2 separate regions of the Homo sapiens genome follow, and region 2 is linked to region 1. Evidence: fine-mapped expression QTL. A gene starts in region 1. The other region holds a variant in brackets. All regions are shown on one strand. Distances are between the middles of the regions. Region 1 holds the start of DIP2C-AS2 (DIP2C antisense RNA 2). Region 2 has its middle 7.4 kb from the start of DIP2C.

The links.
Region 2: its variant is fine-mapped to the expression of DIP2C-AS2 in prefrontal cortex (GTEx, PIP above 0.99). The same link has a PIP of 0.9 or more in putamen.

The regions. Positions count from the first base shown.
Region 1 is chr10:626,274-630,660 of GRCh38, forward strand. It overlaps DIP2C-AS2 (DIP2C antisense RNA 2), which reads left to right and starts at 2,291. Exons shown (of 2, transcript NR_147612.1): 1 at 2,291-2,624; 2 at 3,586-4,387. The region is part of intron 1 of DIP2C (disco interacting protein 2 homolog C); the gene reads right to left. LOC124902361 reads right to left here. Exons shown (of 1, transcript XM_047426106.1): 1 at 1-4,387. RefSeq lists enhancers at 1-716, 2,866-3,825.
Region 2 is chr10:694,885-699,271 of GRCh38, forward strand. No RefSeq gene overlaps it. Among named protein-coding and RNA genes, the nearest start is that of DIP2C, 7.4 kb to the left of the region's middle. The variant C/A (reference allele first, on the strand shown) is at 2,051.

The sequences.
Region 1 (4,387 bases):
CCAGTGAACAGTGGTTCATACTGGGCCAATCCCAGCTGCCAGGCTCTGGGGCTCCTGGGGACAGAATCCTGTTGACTTCACTCTGGGGTGGGAGGGGCGGCAGCATCCCCCAAAGGCACCTGGAGAAGTGGTGTTACCCTCCATCCCCCATCCTCGGTGTTACCCTCCGTCCCCCCGTCCCCGGAGTTACCCTCCGTCCCCCGTCCCCGGGGTTACCCTCCATCCCATCCCTGGTGTTGGTCACCATCCTCCTCACCTCCAGGCCCCTCTCCTTGTCCTCCCTCATTTTCCTGTTCACCGAGAGCATGTCACATGACTCTTCCCTTTTCAAGAGGCTCAGCTGCACCCAGAGGCATTCCGGCCTATTCAGGACGGGGGACACACCCTGGGGAAATGCCTGCATGGGGCCAGAAGGGCCTGAGCCCCTCTCACTGTTGCCCAGGAAGGATGGAACACCCCACGGTCACGCCGATTGTCAGGCCCTCTCACTGTTGCCCAGGAAGGATGGAACACCCCACGGTCACGCCGATCGTCAGGCAGGATGAAAACATCGGTGTCCAAAATGTTTTTTTCACTACAACTGTTTGGACCATTCGTGAACGAATCAGTTAAATACCAAGAAGGGCCATTCCCATTTATTCTTTGGCTACAGTTTTCCACCCACCAGCTACCACGCTCCTAGGAATTACTCCTAACGCAGTATCAGTGCCTTGTGCCTTTTAGGAAAACCTCCTTCCCTCCAGCTTTGTCCTCCTTCCACAAAAGGTGCCTCTGACTGCCTCGCTCGCCGTACCAGGATTTCGCTCGGCTATGGAGGAAAATCCGCGTGGGGCTCAGAGATGGGTGGTCCCCGCACACGCAGTGGCTCTGTAACATCCTCCAAGGAGCCTGGCCCAGGCCTGCCCCACACACCAGGACTCTGCCTTGTGGCCCTCAGGCCCCCGAAGCTGCTTTCCCTCCAGGCGTCATGCCCCGGGCAAGAAGGCCGGACAAGGGCCCAGGGCTGCTGTGGGTCGGGAAACCCTCCCGACACCTCCCTCTCCAAAACCCCCCATCAGCATCCCAGCATCTGGACCTGTGTCACCAGCCGCTCTGCCGTACAAGAGAACTGGATTTTCAGCTGGGTTCGCTGCTTCCCTAAACAAAGTAGGGTTTTGTTACTGAGGAAAAAGGAAAAAGCGGGCATCTTCTTGGCAACCTCGCGACATCCAGCCGCCGGTTCTCACCACACCAGAGATGTCCACCCAGGGCAGACAGTGTCTTCAACCGAGCGCCACTGACCCAGAAGTGCAGTAATTAGTACACTTTCACCAGAGTCACCCACTCCTTCACCTTTACACCCAAGAATAACATGTTTGCCAGGCAAATTAGATGTCCGGGAGGTGTAAGGGAAACCCCAAGCCTGCTTTAAGCCTCAGACTTTTGAGATCGTTGAGGGCCGTGCACGCAAGAGCGAGGCTGCGCCCAAAAGCTCTGCTCCTGCCAGACGTCACAAACAGACCGCACGGCTCAGCCACGTGGACGCTTACAGGACTTCACGAGAGGCACCACCGTGGTACACGTGAAGACGTGCACTTCATTCAGCCTCGAACAGACCACGCCCTCATTACGGGGTTGGTGACCCACCTCCCACCATCAGTCCCCCACCTCACCCAGGGTCTGTGTCTGCATCTGTAACGACTTTGCTGTTTTACCGGGGTACTAAAATGCAGCATCGGAATGTTTAAAGGTCTTTAAATATCAACACTCTGGGTCCAGTTTTCGGCACTTTAATGCGGACACTCGATGCAGGCCTCACTCACCACTCTGAGGTAGCTCATACCTTTCCTACCTAACCAAGCAAGAAACTGAGGCACAGAACGTGGCAGGAAAATATGCAGCTTCTAAGTAGCAGATTAGGATTCAAACCAGTGCTCTTCGTCACATTGCTGACCTACCTCTCAGGCTGAGATAACGTCCAAAATTAACCAGGTAGAACAGTGTTCCATAAATCAGCCAGAAATGGTCCTTGTGGATGGGCCTGTGGTTATTCCCTGAAGAACGAGACCATTGGCCCAAAAATCCACCTGTGTCACATTCAAATGTTTACATATCCAATTACTTAAAAAATACCCCAATCAAGCATGTTTACAGCCATTTACAGCCATATAGATTATCTGCTTTGGTGACAATCAACCCAAGACCTCTGTTGGCAACGGGCATCATGCCAGGTCCAGAGAGGGTGGGACAGAGACACAAACAGGAAACGCTCTGTCCCTGGGAGCCTCGCTCTGATGGGCCTGCGGGGACATGGCACAGACCATGCGGCACAGGCGGAAGGCGGGGACACGGCACAGACCGTGGGGCACAGGCGGACGGAGGGCCAGGAGAAGGGGCTGTGCTGCCAGCAGGCAGTGCTTTGAGCTCTAATGGATGAACATTGCTAACCAGCGAAGGTGGAGAGAGGGCACCCGTCTGAGAAGATGAAGAGGCAGCAAAGCACAGCTGGCCTCGGGGAACCGGAAGCCACAGGGACATCAGGCTGTGTGCTGCTGTCTGTCGGCCACCAGCTGGGGGACTATCCTGGACCTGGAAGGGCATCCCTGACACTCCCCACCAGATGCCAGGGGCACCCCCAGCCCCAGGTGAGAACCACGGATCCCATGGCGAATGAGGTCAGCCTGTGGGAAGTGGGGCTGGGACTGCTCTGCACAGCTTAATAGGAAAGTTGGGTTCTATTTGGTGGGGTTTTGGTCATGCCAATGGCTGGTCAGGGCTGTCCGTGAGGAACTGATTTGAGGACAAGTTAGAGAAGGGGCTGCCGAGGCCAGTGGGGCACTCGCTGTCTGGGTCTAAGAAAAAGAAAATAAAGGCTGGTGATGTGACAGTTGGTGGGAGCACAGACGGAAGGAACTGGCGGTGGAGACACACGGTTGGCCCTGCACAGGGCTACGGTAGCTACCTGGGGGTCATCCTATTAATTCTCCTCATGGTCCCAAGAGGCGGCTGTGAGGATCCCTCTCCTGAGGACAAAACTGCTCCAGAGCCACACAGAACCAAGATCCGGGCCAACTCCAAAGCGGGCGATCTTGACCCCTCACCCGTGGTCCTGAGGCAGGGATCGGAGCCCCCTGGACACACAGACACTCCCAGGAACTGCAGGAATGGGAAGTAGATACCCCAGACCAGCGGCAGGACCCAGGGTTTCTGCCCCTCAGGGCACACTGGGACCAGCCACTGCATAGGTGGACACATGGTGCTTTAACCCACACTGGGGGAAGGAAGCCCTCACTCTCAGAGTGGAGACCACAGCCTCCAGCAGGCCCAGCCTCACTGCTTTAACCCGTACTGGGGGAAGGAAGCTCAAGCTGTCAGGGTGGAGACCGCAGCTTCAATCAGGCCCGGCCTCACTGCTTTAACCCGCGCTGGGGGAAGGAAGCCCTCGCTCTCAGGGTGGAGACCGCAGCCTTGATCAGGCCCAGCCTCACTGCTGGGCACAGCCTGAGGATCGCCATACATGATGCTGAGGTGTCCCAACGTTGGGGTGCCCAGAGCCACTCAGCCGAGAATGTGGTGCTTTCTGTAACTGCCCTCATTTCTTTACAGTATAGATCTGGACTCCATCCTTTGCAATGTGTGGGGTTCTAGGAAGAGGCCAGCCAGCCGTGGAAGTGTCCTGGGCTCTGTCCCGGAGACGACGAACTTGGCTCCCCACGAGGGCGGCCTATTCCCCACAGTGTCCCCCGGGGGCCACACCTGCACCCACCTTGCTGAAGATAATTCGCTTTCTCATCCGTGAAAGAATAAAGTCGGATTAACTCATCTCCACACTCACTTCCAACTCTAACAACCTGTGTTAGGAAATCAAAGGTAAGGACTCTGACCACAAACCCAAGAAGCAAAACCCGAGACTCACGGAACGACGCCACCATTGCAGTTCCCAGCTTGACTAGTTGTTTTTCTTTTCTGGTCTGTTCTGCTCTTTTGGTTTAAATAATTAAAGATCCTTGTTGACAAGTAAAAAAAATTCTTTATGAAGCTAAAAAAAGTGGTTCTAATTAAACATTTAAACATTCTTCCATATACTTTTAAAAACAGTTGTAATTATAGCTCTACTTAATGTTAAGTACTTTAACCAAATGAAAGGTTAATTATACAGACTGGCAATTATAAAAAATAAGGTAACATATTCATGGCATTATGAATAATTAATAAGAACTCTTCGATTTCATTTAGACCAGGGATTCTGTGCTAATATGCTCTCAGCTGTCTTGAAATAATGGTGAAATTTTAAAATTAGTTTTGTACTTAAACATGTCCCCAAAGTGAAGCACAGCGGCCAACGTCCGTCACGGTGCCGAGCAGTGCCAGCCGCTCTACCATGGCCGACGGCCTGATTCCCAAGGGC
Region 2 (4,387 bases), 69 kb after region 1:
TGAGACAAGCAACACACAAGCTTCTGAAGTAGAAAGGAGAGGCTGGAGACTAAAATTTTGCCATCAAAAATTGGCAAAGCGAGAAAGTGTCAGAAAATTTTAAAATTGACCTTATTCTTCAAAATGGGAAAACACGCACACACCCCAAGTCAAGAGCATTCCCAGATGGCTTCTGCGGTGAGACCCCACTACAGTGCTCTTGAGTTGCGTGAGTCACAGAAGCTTGTGGCTGTGGCCCAAGTCTGGGCCATCTCACACCCACACCTGACAAAAGCAAAGAAAAACAGAGAGGGTCGTGAGGCTCCACTGTCCACACTGAGGCCACAGTGATCCAGGGAGTCCAGCAGCTGTGAGACCAGGCTGCCTAACCATCACCTGGCAAACCAGAGGTTGAAGCTTCATTTGTCGAGAAAGGTCTGGGGGAGTCTGAGACAAGGGCCCTCCCGGAACATCCAGACCCCACTCAGGCAGGAGTGCTGCTGTGGCTGGCACTGTGTCTCAGGTCCTTGCCGTCCTGGCCACCGATGTCTTAGGCTGGGCTCCAGGAAGCGGGGCCTGAGGCAGGGGCTGGGGGGCAGGTGCCTCCTGGAGGGTGTGCGCTGCAGACAGAACCTGTCACGGGGTGACCACCTCAGCACAGGAAGAAGCAGAGCCCTTGGCCCTGCCACTCAGGACACCACAGGGCCAGTCCTCAGGGCAAGACAACGGCCTGGGCCAGCCGGGTGTGGGCAGAGAGCAGCCCACCCATCGGCTCATCACACTGGGAACACGCGTGGCTGTGACCCACCCATGGCCACATGACAGCCGCTGGAGGATGGGGCACCCAGCCTACAGCGCCCGAGCAGCCTCGCTGAGAACCACCACATGTCAGCTGGGCAGAAACCAGGAACCCGCAGGCTCACATCCACCAAGCAGTGTGTCCGGGCAGATGGCGTCTCAGAGGGTGAGGATCCCCCATGATCTCTGGGGACCCACAGGTGAGGATCCTGTGTGACCTCTGGGGACCCACAGCTCCTCATATCCAGCGAGCAGTGCGTCCAGGCGGATGGCATCTCAGAGGGTGAGGGTCCTGCATGATGTCTGGGGACCCGCGGGTGAGGATCCTGTGTGATCTCTGGGGACCCGCAGGTGAGGATCCTGTATGATCTCTGGGGACCCACAGCTGCTCACATCCACCAAGCAGTGCGTCCAGGTGGACGGCATCTCAGAGGGTGAGGGTCCTGTGTGATCTCTGAACTCGCAGGTGAGGGTCCCTTGTGATTTCTGGGGACCCGCAGCTGCTCACATCCAACAGGCAGTGCGTCCGGGTGTACGGCATCTGAGAGGGTGAGGATCTTGTGTGATCTCTGGGGACCCACAGCTCCTCATATCTAGCAAGCAGTGTGTCTGGGCAGACGGCGTCTCAAAGGGTGAGGGTCCTGTGTGATCTTTGAGGAGAACATCGGATGTACATGATTCAGGGTTTTTTGGTTTATTTTCTACGTTACTCTTTTTTGTTTTATTTTTATGACTCCATTTGCTTTGTGTGGACTCATGAAGAATTTTAGACAGCATCCTTTGCCAAGCCATGTGCTGGATGTCATATAGGACGTGGCTCAGGAGCTTACACACATGCAGGGCCTGTAGTCTTAGGACGTGGCTCAGGAGCTTACAGGCATGCAGGGCCTGTAGTCCTAGGATGTGGCTGAGGAGCTTACATGCATGCAGGGCCAGTAGTCCTAGGACGTGGCTTAGGAGCTTACATGCATGCAGGGCCAGTAGTCCTAGGACGTGGCTTAGGAGCTTACACTCAGGTAGGGCCTACAGTCCTAGGACGTGTCTCAGGAGCTTACACGTGTAGGGCCTGTAGTCCTAGGACATGGCTCAAGAGCTTACATGCATGCAGGGCCGGTAGTCCTAGGACGTGGCTCAGGAGCTTTCACGTGTAGGGCCGGTAGTCCTAGGACGTGGCTCAGGAGCTTACACGTGTAGGGCCTGTAGTCCTAGGATGTGGCTCAAGAGCTTACATGCATGCAGGGCCGGTAGTCCTAGGACGTGGCTTAGGAGCTTA[C/A]ACTCAGGTAGGGCCTAGTCCCAGGACGTGGGTCAGGAGCTTACACTCAGGTAGGTCCTACAGTCCTAGGACGTGGCTCAGGAGCTTACACACGTGTAGGGCCTGTAGTCCCAGCGACAGACACAAAAGGAAACAGAAGCCGGTGGACACCCCTGGAAAGTCAGGCCTTTTTAGCCAGGAGAGGTTAGTTTATAAGGAACCATGGATTGTCCAAAAGATCTGATTCAAAACCCTTCCCCTGCCCATGGGGACCTTGTGTCACTCAGCCCTCGAAGTGCATGGCCAGGGCCTCTCCCAGACCAGCTGCTCATCTCCCCCGCCCCAGGTGCTGCCCGGCTGGTGGTTTCCCTCTGGTGGTCAGACCTCCGGTGTGGGCGTGGGGGATCTTGGCAGGTTGTCACGCTCTGCACGCGGCTTCCGTGAGCCTGACCAGGCTCCGGTTTCCTTCCCCACTCCTCACCCTGCCCTGGCTCAGAGAGAAACGGGCACACGGGGCCCTGGATCCCCGTTCCTGGAACGCCTCTCTGGATGCTCACTGAGGACATTTCCCCGCGGGGCCTTCATGCAACGCCAAAGCCAAGGTTTCCGCACGCACAGGCTCCTCGGGAATCTGACCCCAGATGGGAAAGCGTGGCCAGGCAGACAGTCACAGAGTCTTGGCCAAAGCACTTGCACCAGACACCCCCTGACGCCCCACAGCTACAGGGGAGGGCACTGAGGAGACCGCCTATCCCAAAGCAGCTTGCCCCAGCCCCGCAGGCTCAGACGCACGTCCCCCTTCCTGCAGCCCCCGTAACAGCTTGCCCCAGCCCCGCAGGCTCAGACCCACGCACCCCTTCCTGCAGCCCCTCTAGCATCCTCCTTTCCAGCCTCACCAAGGGCTGCACGTGGTTTCTCAAGGAGTTTAGACCCCAGGAAAAAGTAGTTGTGCAAAAAACTCACAGGAGAGCAAAGCAGAATTTAGCAAGTACCATGAGTAGCGTGTTCCTGAGGAAGGTGAAGAACGAGGAGGTTAATTTGAAAATCATTCACTCTTGCTCGGGTCTCCGGTGGGCACGCCCATTGTGTGGCACCTACTCCATTCCCTTCACGGGAAGGCGCGGCTGTCACTCCCTCCAACCATGGGCCTCCGCAGAACGTTAGATGAAAATACTCTGAAGCACAGGAAAGAGAGAAAGAAAAAGATTCGAGGGTGGAAAGAAAGAGGTCAGGAACGGAGGGAAGGACAGACAAGGGATAGGAACACAGAGGGTGTGCTCTCACGGAGAAAGATCCGTGTTAGCAACAGGGGAAGAGATGGATGAAGCAAAAGACAAATGCAGACAGAAATAGAGTTGAACTCATGATTTTTAAGATATGATAAATCAGATTTTTTTTAAACAATAGGGATGCAAAATGCTGTAGGTTTTTTTGTTGTTTTGTTTTTGAGACAGTGTCCCACTGTGTCGCCCAGGCTGGAGTGCAATAGCACGATCTCGGCTCACTGCAACCTTCGCCTCCTGGGTTCAAGCGATTCTTTTGCCTCAGCCTCCTGAGTAGCTGGGACTACAGGCGTGTGCCACCACACCCGGCTAATTTTTGTATTTTTTAGTAGAGACGGGGTTTCACCACTTTGGCCAGGCTGGTCTCAAACTCCTGACCTCAAGCGATGTGCCCGCCTTGGCCTCCCAAAGTCCTGGGATTACGGGCGTGAGCCACCACGCCCAGCCCAAAATGCTGTTTTTAAACATTGCTGTGGAAATTAGATACTGTGCTCGCTTCAGCAGCATATATACTAAAAATTGGAAATTAGACATTGTATCAGATTCCTGGGGCAGCCATAGCTAAGTGCCACAAACTGGGTGACTTTAAGCAACAGACATCAGCCAGGCACGCTGGCTCATGCCTGTAATCCCAGCACTTTGGGAGGCCAAGGAGGGCAGATCCCTTGAGACCAGCCTGGGCAACACAGAAAGATTTCATCTCTACAAAAGATTAACATGAAAACAATTAGCCAGGCGTGGTGGCGTGCCTGTGGTCCCAGCTACTCAGGAGGCTGAGGACTACCTTGGCCCCGGAGTTTGAGATTGCAGTAATCTATGATTGTGCCACTGCGCTCCAGTTTTGGTGACAGAAGGAGACCCTGTCAATCAGTCAATTAATCAATAAAAGGAAAAACAAAACCCCAGAAAGGTCTTGTCTCAGTCCTGGGGCTGGACGTCTGAGATCCAGCTGTCAGCAGGGCCCTGCTCTCCCTGACTCCTGGAGGGGTAGATCCTTCCCATCTTTCCAGCTCCTGGGAGCTCTGCAGTGCTTGGCATTTGGCAGCTCATCACCGCATCCCTCCAGCCTCTGACT